Linked DNA regions of Homo sapiens: regions 2 and 3 are each linked to region 1. Evidence: fine-mapped expression QTL. A gene starts in region 1. Each other region holds a variant in brackets. All regions are shown on one strand. Distances are from middle to middle.

Region 1 (2,500 bases):
CGCGCCATTCATCAGTGTCGGCGGCCCGCGGCCGCGAGCGAGGGCTGCTGGACAGCGCCCCGGCACCCGCTCTCGAGCCGCGACACCGACCTCGCCGGGCCCGCCCCGCTGACCCGCGCACTCCTAGTGCACTTGCCGCGCCGCGCGGAGGCTCGCCGCGCTCTGGAAAACAAGAAACCCCACTGCCTCGGCGGCTTTCCGCTCCCGCAAGAGTTGCGGGCACAAAGTCCTCAGGTGGCAGGCCTGGGGTTGGCGCCGCTTTGTCGGCTGCAGGGAGCCCCAAAGACTAGCGTCAGCTCGTCCCCAAACTCGAGGCGACAGGCGCCGAAAGCAGAGTGCTGTGCCTGCCTCGTCCAGGTCCCTCCTGAAACTCAGAACTCGTCTTTGTTTTGCGGGCGCAAAGAGGGCGGAGATCATCCACAGTGCAAGCTCTCTTAGGACCAAGCCCCCAGCCCGAACGCTGAACGCCCCCAACACACTGCTCCCTAGACACGTTCAAGCGGGTACCCCGGGCCGCTCACTCTGGACCGCGGCCGGCTACGCACAAGCAGCGCCGCAGGCTGCCTGGAGTCGGGTCGTGCCCTGATTCCTTCCTCCCCAGCCTCACATGCGGCGGACCCCGGGGAAGCCAGGGCCAGGCGAAGCGCAGCGGGCCCTTTGGGCTGCAGCGAGGAGACGCAAGTTTCCCCGCAAAGCCGCGGGGAGGAGGTGCTGAGAATGCCTGCCCGGCGCCCCAACCCGGAGCCAAGGGCACCGGGCCCGGGCCGAGGGGCCGCGCTCGCCTGGCTCCGCCGGGGCCGCTCGGGGTCCTGAACCCAAGAACGGCGCCTGCAGGATTTCGGAGCCGGGCGCGAGCTGCGGGCTCGGCCCGAGCGCTTCTGCGTGGCGCCCCGCGTGCCAACCGGGTCACTCCGGTCCCCACCGTAGACCCCGGCCACGAGCCTCGGCGTCCCAGCCTCTCCTCGAGTCCTGGCCTTGGCCGGGGTAGCCCTGCCGAGCCCTGGCCCAGCGGTCCCTTCCCCGCGGGCAAACTTGGCTTTCCCGGCGCGGGCAGTAAGGACAAGCAAGCGCCCGCGCCGGGCCCTGCAGCAAGATGCGGGGCCGCGGGCGCCAGGACCCCAGTGGGGTGCAGCGGGACCGGCTGGTGGCGGCGCCAGCGACATGGCACCCTCCCCGCGCCCGCTGGGAGCTGCGCCCGCGTACCTGAGACGGCCGGGGCCGAGGGGAAGACCAGGTGGCCGGACTTGGGCGGGAGGGAGGGAGCACCCCGTGGCGGCGGCGGCGACCCCGCCCCGCGTCCTTCGGCTGGTTTCTCGGGCTGTCGGCGGGTCCCGGGCTCGCTGGAGGCTGTTGAGGCTCCAGCTCCCTGAGCCGCCGCTGCCCGCTGCTGTGCCACCGCCGCCGCGGCTGCCCTATTTCTGCCGCCGGGACCGGAGCCCGTGACGTCACCCTCTGGGCCCCGCCTGCCCAATCGCCGCCACCTGTGCGCGCCGCCCGCCCGCCAGCCGGTCAGACCCGCGCGGCGGCCACGGCAGGTGCGCGGAGCAGGCGGGCGCGCACGCGGGGCGCGATGACTCCGGAGCGCTGGGGCCATCTAGGGCCCGGAGGGAGGAGGGCCAGCGTAGCGCTCCTGCCTCTGGCTAGCGTGGAGCTCGGCAAGTGACAGCCCCTCTTCACCTCTGCTCTCCTCCAGGCTCCTTTCCGGGCCAGGTTCCCCAAAGCTGTGCTCTCCAGGCGCACAGGGGGTCTCTGAATCCGCGGCCATTGCTCGTGGAGTCCAGGCGGGCCGGTACACCACAGCAGGAGAGCTGTCCCTGGGGACAAAGTGGGTGAAATCCCCCGCCGTTGAGACCCAACAACCTGGGAAACAGCAAAGGTTTTCTCTTTTCTGAATCTTCCCTCTTCCAACTACAGAATCTTAAGACATTCAGGGCATACAGGGGCAATCCCAAGTGACATTTGCCTACCTGACCTAGCTGGGCCCAGAGGGTCCCTTCTCCCTTAGAACAGGATATTTCCCCATCCTGATCCCATCCCCAAGCCTGGGGCTCCCAAACTTTTCTGAATCCCTCTTTAACATCAGCAGCTTTTGAGATCAGTCTTCCTTCCCGAATGAACTGGAAACACCTTTGTAACAACTAGGGGCCCATAAATGGTCATACGTAGCCTCAGTCTGGCAGGAAACTTAGGAGGGAGCCCCTACCCAGGCCAGGCTGATGGCCAGGAGACTTTCTGAGGGCCTGCCTCCTGCTCTGGCTGCGTGGGCACCAGGGGCCTTCCTGGCTTAGGTGAACAGTGTTCTGTCCATGCCTCTGTAATCTCTCCTGGCCGGGGGGAGGTGACAGAGGGGATTTTTCTGAGGATGAAGTTAGTTAAATATAAGGAAAAGGGGAAGAATAATGGAAGGCTGACCTGAAGAAAGAGATATTACGTTTGTTTTTTCCTTCCACAGATTTTCCTGCCGCTGAACCCCTCCAATGCAGCAGGCACTGTGCTATTA
Region 2 (2,847 bases), 23 kb before region 1:
GCTTCTGCACAGCAAAAGAAACTACCATGAGAGTGAACAGGCAACCTACAACATGGGAGAAAATTTTCGCAACCTACGCATCTGACAAAGGGCTAATATCCAGAATCTACAATGAACTCAAACAAATTTACAAGAAAAAAACAAACAACCCCATCAAAAAGTGGGCGAAGGACATGAACAGACACTTCTCAAAAGAAGACATTTATGCAGCCAAAAAACACATGAAGAAATGCTCATCATCACTGGCCATCAGAGAAATGCAAATCAAAACCACTATGAGATATCATCTCACACCAGTTAGAATGGCAATCATTAAAAAGTCAGGAAACAACAGGTGCTGGAGAGGATGTGGAGAAATAGGAACACTTTTACACTGTTGGTGGGACTGTAAACTAGTTCAACCATTGTGGAAGTCAGTGTGGCGATTCCTCAGGGATCTAGAACTAGAAATACCATTTGACCCAGCCATCCCATTACTGGGTATATACCCAAAGGACTATAAATCATGCTGCTATAAAGACACATGCACACGTATGTTTATTGCGGCACTATTCACAATAGCAAAGACTTGGAACCAACCCAAATGTCCAACAATGATAGACTGGATTAAGAAAATGTGGCACATATACACCATGGAATACTATACAGCCATAAAAAATGATGAGTTCATGTCCTTTGTAGGGACATGGATGAAATTGGAAACCATCATTCTCAGTAAACTATCGCAAGAACAAAAAACCAAACACCGCATATTCTCACTCATAGGTGGGAATTGAACAATGAGATCACATGGACACAGGAAGGGGAATATCACACTCTGGGGACTGTGGTGGGGTCGGGGGAGGGGGGAGGGATAGCATTGGGAGATATACCTAATGCTAGATGACACGTTAGTGGGTGCAGCGCACCAGCATGGCACATGTATACATATGTAACTAACCTGCACAATGTGCACATGTACCCTAAAACTTAGAGTATAATAAAAAAAAAAAAAAAGATCAAGGCCCCAGAACCTTGCTTCTGAAAGGGAGACTGCTGTGGTCAACCCTTAGGAACTTCCCAAGGCCAATTCTTAAAAGCAGAAACAGAGACCACCAAATATCACACACTTAGTCCTCCACCCACAGACACTGCCCTCACTGTCCCATGTGAGGGCAGTAGCTGCCAAGTCCCCAGTGGAATCCTGGAAGAAGTGCAAGGAAATAGCCAAAGGAATGTTAATATGTTAATTCTCAGAGGTTCAGTGGCTGCCTGATGGTGAAAGAAGAGAAATTGTTGGG[G/A]AGGAGGGGGAATAGGGGCAGAACTCATCTCTCCCCACAGAAGGTCAAGAGGCCACCCACCGCCCAGCCCCAGAAGACCACCTCAAACTCTGCTGCCCTCCAGGAGGAGGGGATGCCTCCTCTGATGTGACGTTGTCTGCTTTGGCCTTCCAAAGCTCAATGTCATCAAATGTCCTTTCCCTAGATTCAAAAATATGTCCTTGGGGATAAGAGCACAATACTGTGGTTAGGAATACATGCTAGATAGTCAGAAAGCCAGATGCAAACCCTGGCTCCACCACTTACTATATGGGAGATCTCAAACAGCTCACTTATCTTGAAGCCTCAATTTCTACATGTGTAAAATAAACAAATTAATAATACCTCATAGACTCTCTTTGAGAAGTCAATGAATTAATCTACTTAGTGCTTTGGCAAAATGAAAGCTGTTTATTAATTCTATCATATCAATAGCTATGGAATTAAGAAATTCATATTAGGAATGAGAATTCCTATTGGGAATCTCCTCTTTATTTATTTATTTATTTATTTATTTATTTGAGACACAGTCTTGCTCTGTCGCTCTGTCACCAGGCTAGAGTGCAGTGGCATGATCTTCCTCTTTATTCTTATAAGAGAAGGATAAGAGGAGCCATTCAGACTTCCAGCCCAGAGCTCCAGATGACACTGCCCCCTTTCATCCTCACCCTAGAGATGTCCCTGGTTCCCTAGCCCTCTCTAACTCTTGGCTACACAGAAAGAGATATCACAACAAAAACCAAATTTTTAATGCAATAAGACTTTGTATCTAGCTGGGAGCAAAGCTGAGATTCAGAACTGGGGAGGTGGGGAGTGCATCTATCTCATCTTGTCTTCCATGATGACAGGCCAAATTATCCCACAGCAGCTCAACTATTTTGCTTGCTGGATTTGGCAGGGTGGTGGACCTTCTAAGAAGAGGCATCTGGTCAAGCCATGACTCCCCTCCCATGTAACCCCTCTTTCTTTCCAAGAATGATTCCAGCTAAACCTCAAAGCAGCTGCACTAAGGAGCTCCCTACAGCCACAGGATATGTATCTCTGGAGTCACAGGGCCACAACTGAGCACCAAAGCCTGCTCCCCTTTAGTGAGTTTGATGGGTCAGGCGTGGACACAGGCTGCCTTAGTCCATTTTGTGCTGCTATAACAGAATACCTGAGACTGGGTACTTTATAATGAACAGAAATGTATTGGCTCACAGTTCTGGAGTCTGGGAAGTCCAAGATTGAGGGGCTGGCATTTTGCAAAGGCCTCCTTGCTGCATACTCCCATGGTGAAAGGTCAAAGACAGAGAGCAAGAGATCCAATTCCCAGTCTCAAGCCCTTCTGTAATCGGCATTCCTGAGGATGGAGCATGGAGCCTTCGTTACCTAAACACCCCCATTAGGCACCATCACCCAACTTGTGGCACTGGGGATTAAGTTTCCAACACATGCTTTTTGGGGAACACATTCCAACCATAGTACCCCAGGAGCCAAGGGCACTGGCACCAGGATGGAGGGGAGGACCAGGGTAGTGACTGGCAAAATGCAAGTCGGCCTGTGGAGG
Region 3 (2,847 bases), 100 kb before region 1:
TGTAATCGTACAGGACTTCCACTGTACATGCGGTCTGTTGTCAACTGAAACATCATTATGCAGCACATGACTAAGTAATCCAGAGATCATTTAAAGTGTATGGAAGAACGTGTGTAGGTTATATGCAAAAACGACACCACTTTGTAGAAGGGACTTGAGCATCTGAGGATTTTAGTATCTGTGGAAGTCCTGAAACCACATGAGTGAGAAGCAAATAGCTTTAAAATAGCATTAACAGTATAATCTGTTTAATGCAAACTGCTAGGATGTATTTTGCCCAGATCCTGTTTAAGCAAGGCTTGATATTTTACATGCTCCTTAGAGTCTGTCTTGTTGGGCCTTTCATCTTACTCTTATATAAGGTAAGTGCTGATCTTGTTAATCATCTTACTCATATATAAGGTAAGTGTTAATCTTGTAATCCTTCCTTGTTTCTCAAGGAAGGAAAGCATACCTCTAGAAGCACATTAAAGGACTTGCTATTGGTTTACTCTGTAAACCAGGAACCTGACATAGTTGCTGGTTTCTGAGTAACCACAGCAGTACAACAAATGAAAGGAAATAAATCTAGTTTTGATTTTCAAAATGCAGGCCTATTCCAGCCACCCCATCACTTTCCCATCCCTGTGTTTAAGCCTCCTTCAGACCACAGCAGAGCTGCCCTGCTACACTGGGTGAGCCCTTCTCCTGCAGTTTTGCCCTGGCTACAGAGCTGCAACCCCCACACCTCATCTCCTCTGGGCTCTGGATTCTCAAGAGACAGAAACCTCCTCTTTTTTACAACACAGCAAAGACCTGGCCAACCTTCTCCGTCTCCTCTTTTTCATGGCCTGTCCAGATTTTTGCTTTTCTAATTTCCTCTTCTGATTCTTTATCAGAGAGGAGCCTTTGTGGTCCAGGGCCTGCCTCCTCCTTGCTCATTTCAGCCAGCACCCAGAATACCCTCACAGAGAAGCAAATCACTCAGCAAGCACCAATTTATCCCAAGAAAACCTTTTAAGGGGTTGAGACCAATGAGTGTTCACTCTCGCTATTTAAATGGTTATTGCTCTCAGCCCAGGAGTATGGCTGTTGGAGCTTTCACTTGTTTTCTCCTGGAAATGATTCATTTCATAACAACAGAGTCCTTCAGCGAAGGACTGCAATAGCTTCTGGGTTGCTAAACACTCTGAATGTTTCATTATGGATAATGGGCCTAACAC[G/A]ATAACATATGTAAGCAACCAGGAAAGGAGAACAGATACAAAGACAGCCATGAAGCTGGGCAGGCAGTGTGACAGCTCTGTCTCTCCTGCTGCCCTGGGCAGTGCCCACTGACCCAGAGCCTTGACCCTGAAATGCTTGCTCTGAACCTTGGCAGGAACCTCAGAAGTCATGCACGTGTTCACTGACCACAGAGCTCTAGGGACAAACATCTGGTTTCCGATATGGAGTGTAGGCAAAAGATCTGGTCCACTCACTCATACTTCATAATCATAACCAATGATTTAGTGCCCACTGTATGCTAGGCCCTGTGCCAAGGTATTTAGTACGTTATATCCTTTAATCCTCAGAATAACCCTATGAGGAAGGCACCAGCATTATCCCCATTTTACAGTTGAAAGAACTGAGGCATAGTGTGATTAACTAATTTGTCTAAGGTCACAGAGTTAAGTGGCATGGCCAGACAATGGAACCTCGTTGCCTTACCCTCAATGCTGTGAAACAATAGACAACAGCCCACAGCAACACCCTCTACACAGTGGTTCTGGGCAAAACACCTTGTTGGCATCATATATTAACAAATCCACTGACCCCCAAAAGACCATGTGGTAAGTTAAATGAGCTCCTGCTTATTTCTATATAAAAAATTACCTTTCAAACCCCAAGGACTGTGCATGGATATTCCCAGGTTGGGCTAAAGCTCATGTTGTCCAGGTGGTACCTTCCTGTCAGCTCTCCACGATTCATTTATGAGTCTGGAGTTTGCTACTGGACCTACCCAACAATGTTCCCAGCCTTCCCTGAGAACAGACCATGCAAGCTTTCAGGAAGATCAATTTTTCCAGCAGAAGGAGAAACCACAAACTTAGCTCCCTACCCAGATTTTATCTCCCACTCCAAGAGAACTGGGGGAAAACAAAACATTTTAAAGGCAAACAGGAACAAAATGTAGTGTAAATGTTACTGAGAGCGCTCTCTTCATGGAGCCCCAGGGAGTCCTTTCTGGAAGACAGGAGCTTTGCGATCCTGTCCTCTGCCTCTACCGGTGAGTCAGCAAAATGGATCTGAGCGCAAGGCTAGAGCCACAGCCGTGTCCCACTCGATAAGGTTTCCGCTGGTTCTCTCCTCTGACGTCAAAACCCATCTGTGAGATGGGGACATGAAAGCCAGCTCTCGCTCAAAAAGGGTTTCTGTATAGCTCTCGGGCTGGCCCCTGTTTCAGAAGCCATTCTTACAGTGATTTTGTAGCAACTGATGTTTCTCTTGCTTGGTCATCTCTCACCTCCAGCTCAAGGAGTTTTTGCGAGCTCAGTTTCTGGGCCTGAGATGAGATGTATCCCCTCTGAGTTCCATCAAGGCCACAGGCCATGCCTTCAAGGGCACCCCAAGCACAGCCAGACCAGCTGTGGGCCAGGCTCCTCTGGGTCCCTCAACCTAAGCTGGCATCTCTCTGTGGCACAAGTGGTCTGCCATGGGCCTGGGTCCCTGGTTAGGACATGATCAGCACCCTGAGATACTCAGGATCATTCAGCGATGGAGTTGCATGTGCTCTTCTTCTTTCCAGCCAGACCTTAAGGACAAAGAACCAGGCTTCTGGATTTGCGCTGTTCCCTCTTCTCCTCCCCAGTAGCCAGCAACATCATACCA

Direction of the effects. Alleles are on the strand shown, and positions count from the first base shown. SD is a standard deviation of normalised expression in the study named. Not every link is listed here.
With allele G in place of A in region 3, the expression in whole blood of the gene that starts at base 1,420 in region 1 is lower (moderate effect, 0.61 SD a copy in GTEx).

Evidence for each region. PIP is the estimated chance that this variant, and not a neighbour inherited with it, causes the effect.
Region 2: its variant is the best candidate, but not a certain one, in a credible set for the expression of FSTL4 in iPS cells (HipSci, PIP 0.55).
Region 3: its variant is the best candidate, but not a certain one, in a credible set for the expression of FSTL4 in whole blood (GTEx, PIP 0.55).

What each region holds. Positions count from the first base shown.
Region 1 is chr5:133,611,122-133,613,621 of GRCh38, forward strand. It overlaps FSTL4 (follistatin like 4), which reads right to left and starts at 1,420. Exons shown (of 16, transcript NM_015082.2): 1 at 1,204-1,420. RefSeq lists a silencer at 102-151.
Region 2 is chr5:133,588,306-133,591,152 of GRCh38, forward strand. All of the region lies in intron 2 of FSTL4 (follistatin like 4), which reads right to left. Among named protein-coding and RNA genes, the nearest start is that of FSTL4, 23 kb to the right of the region's middle. The variant G/A (reference allele first, on the strand shown) is at 1,281.
Region 3 is chr5:133,508,543-133,511,389 of GRCh38, forward strand. All of the region lies in intron 3 of FSTL4 (follistatin like 4), which reads right to left. Among named protein-coding and RNA genes, the nearest start is that of MIR1289-2, 82 kb to the left of the region's middle. The variant G/A (reference allele first, on the strand shown) is at 1,203.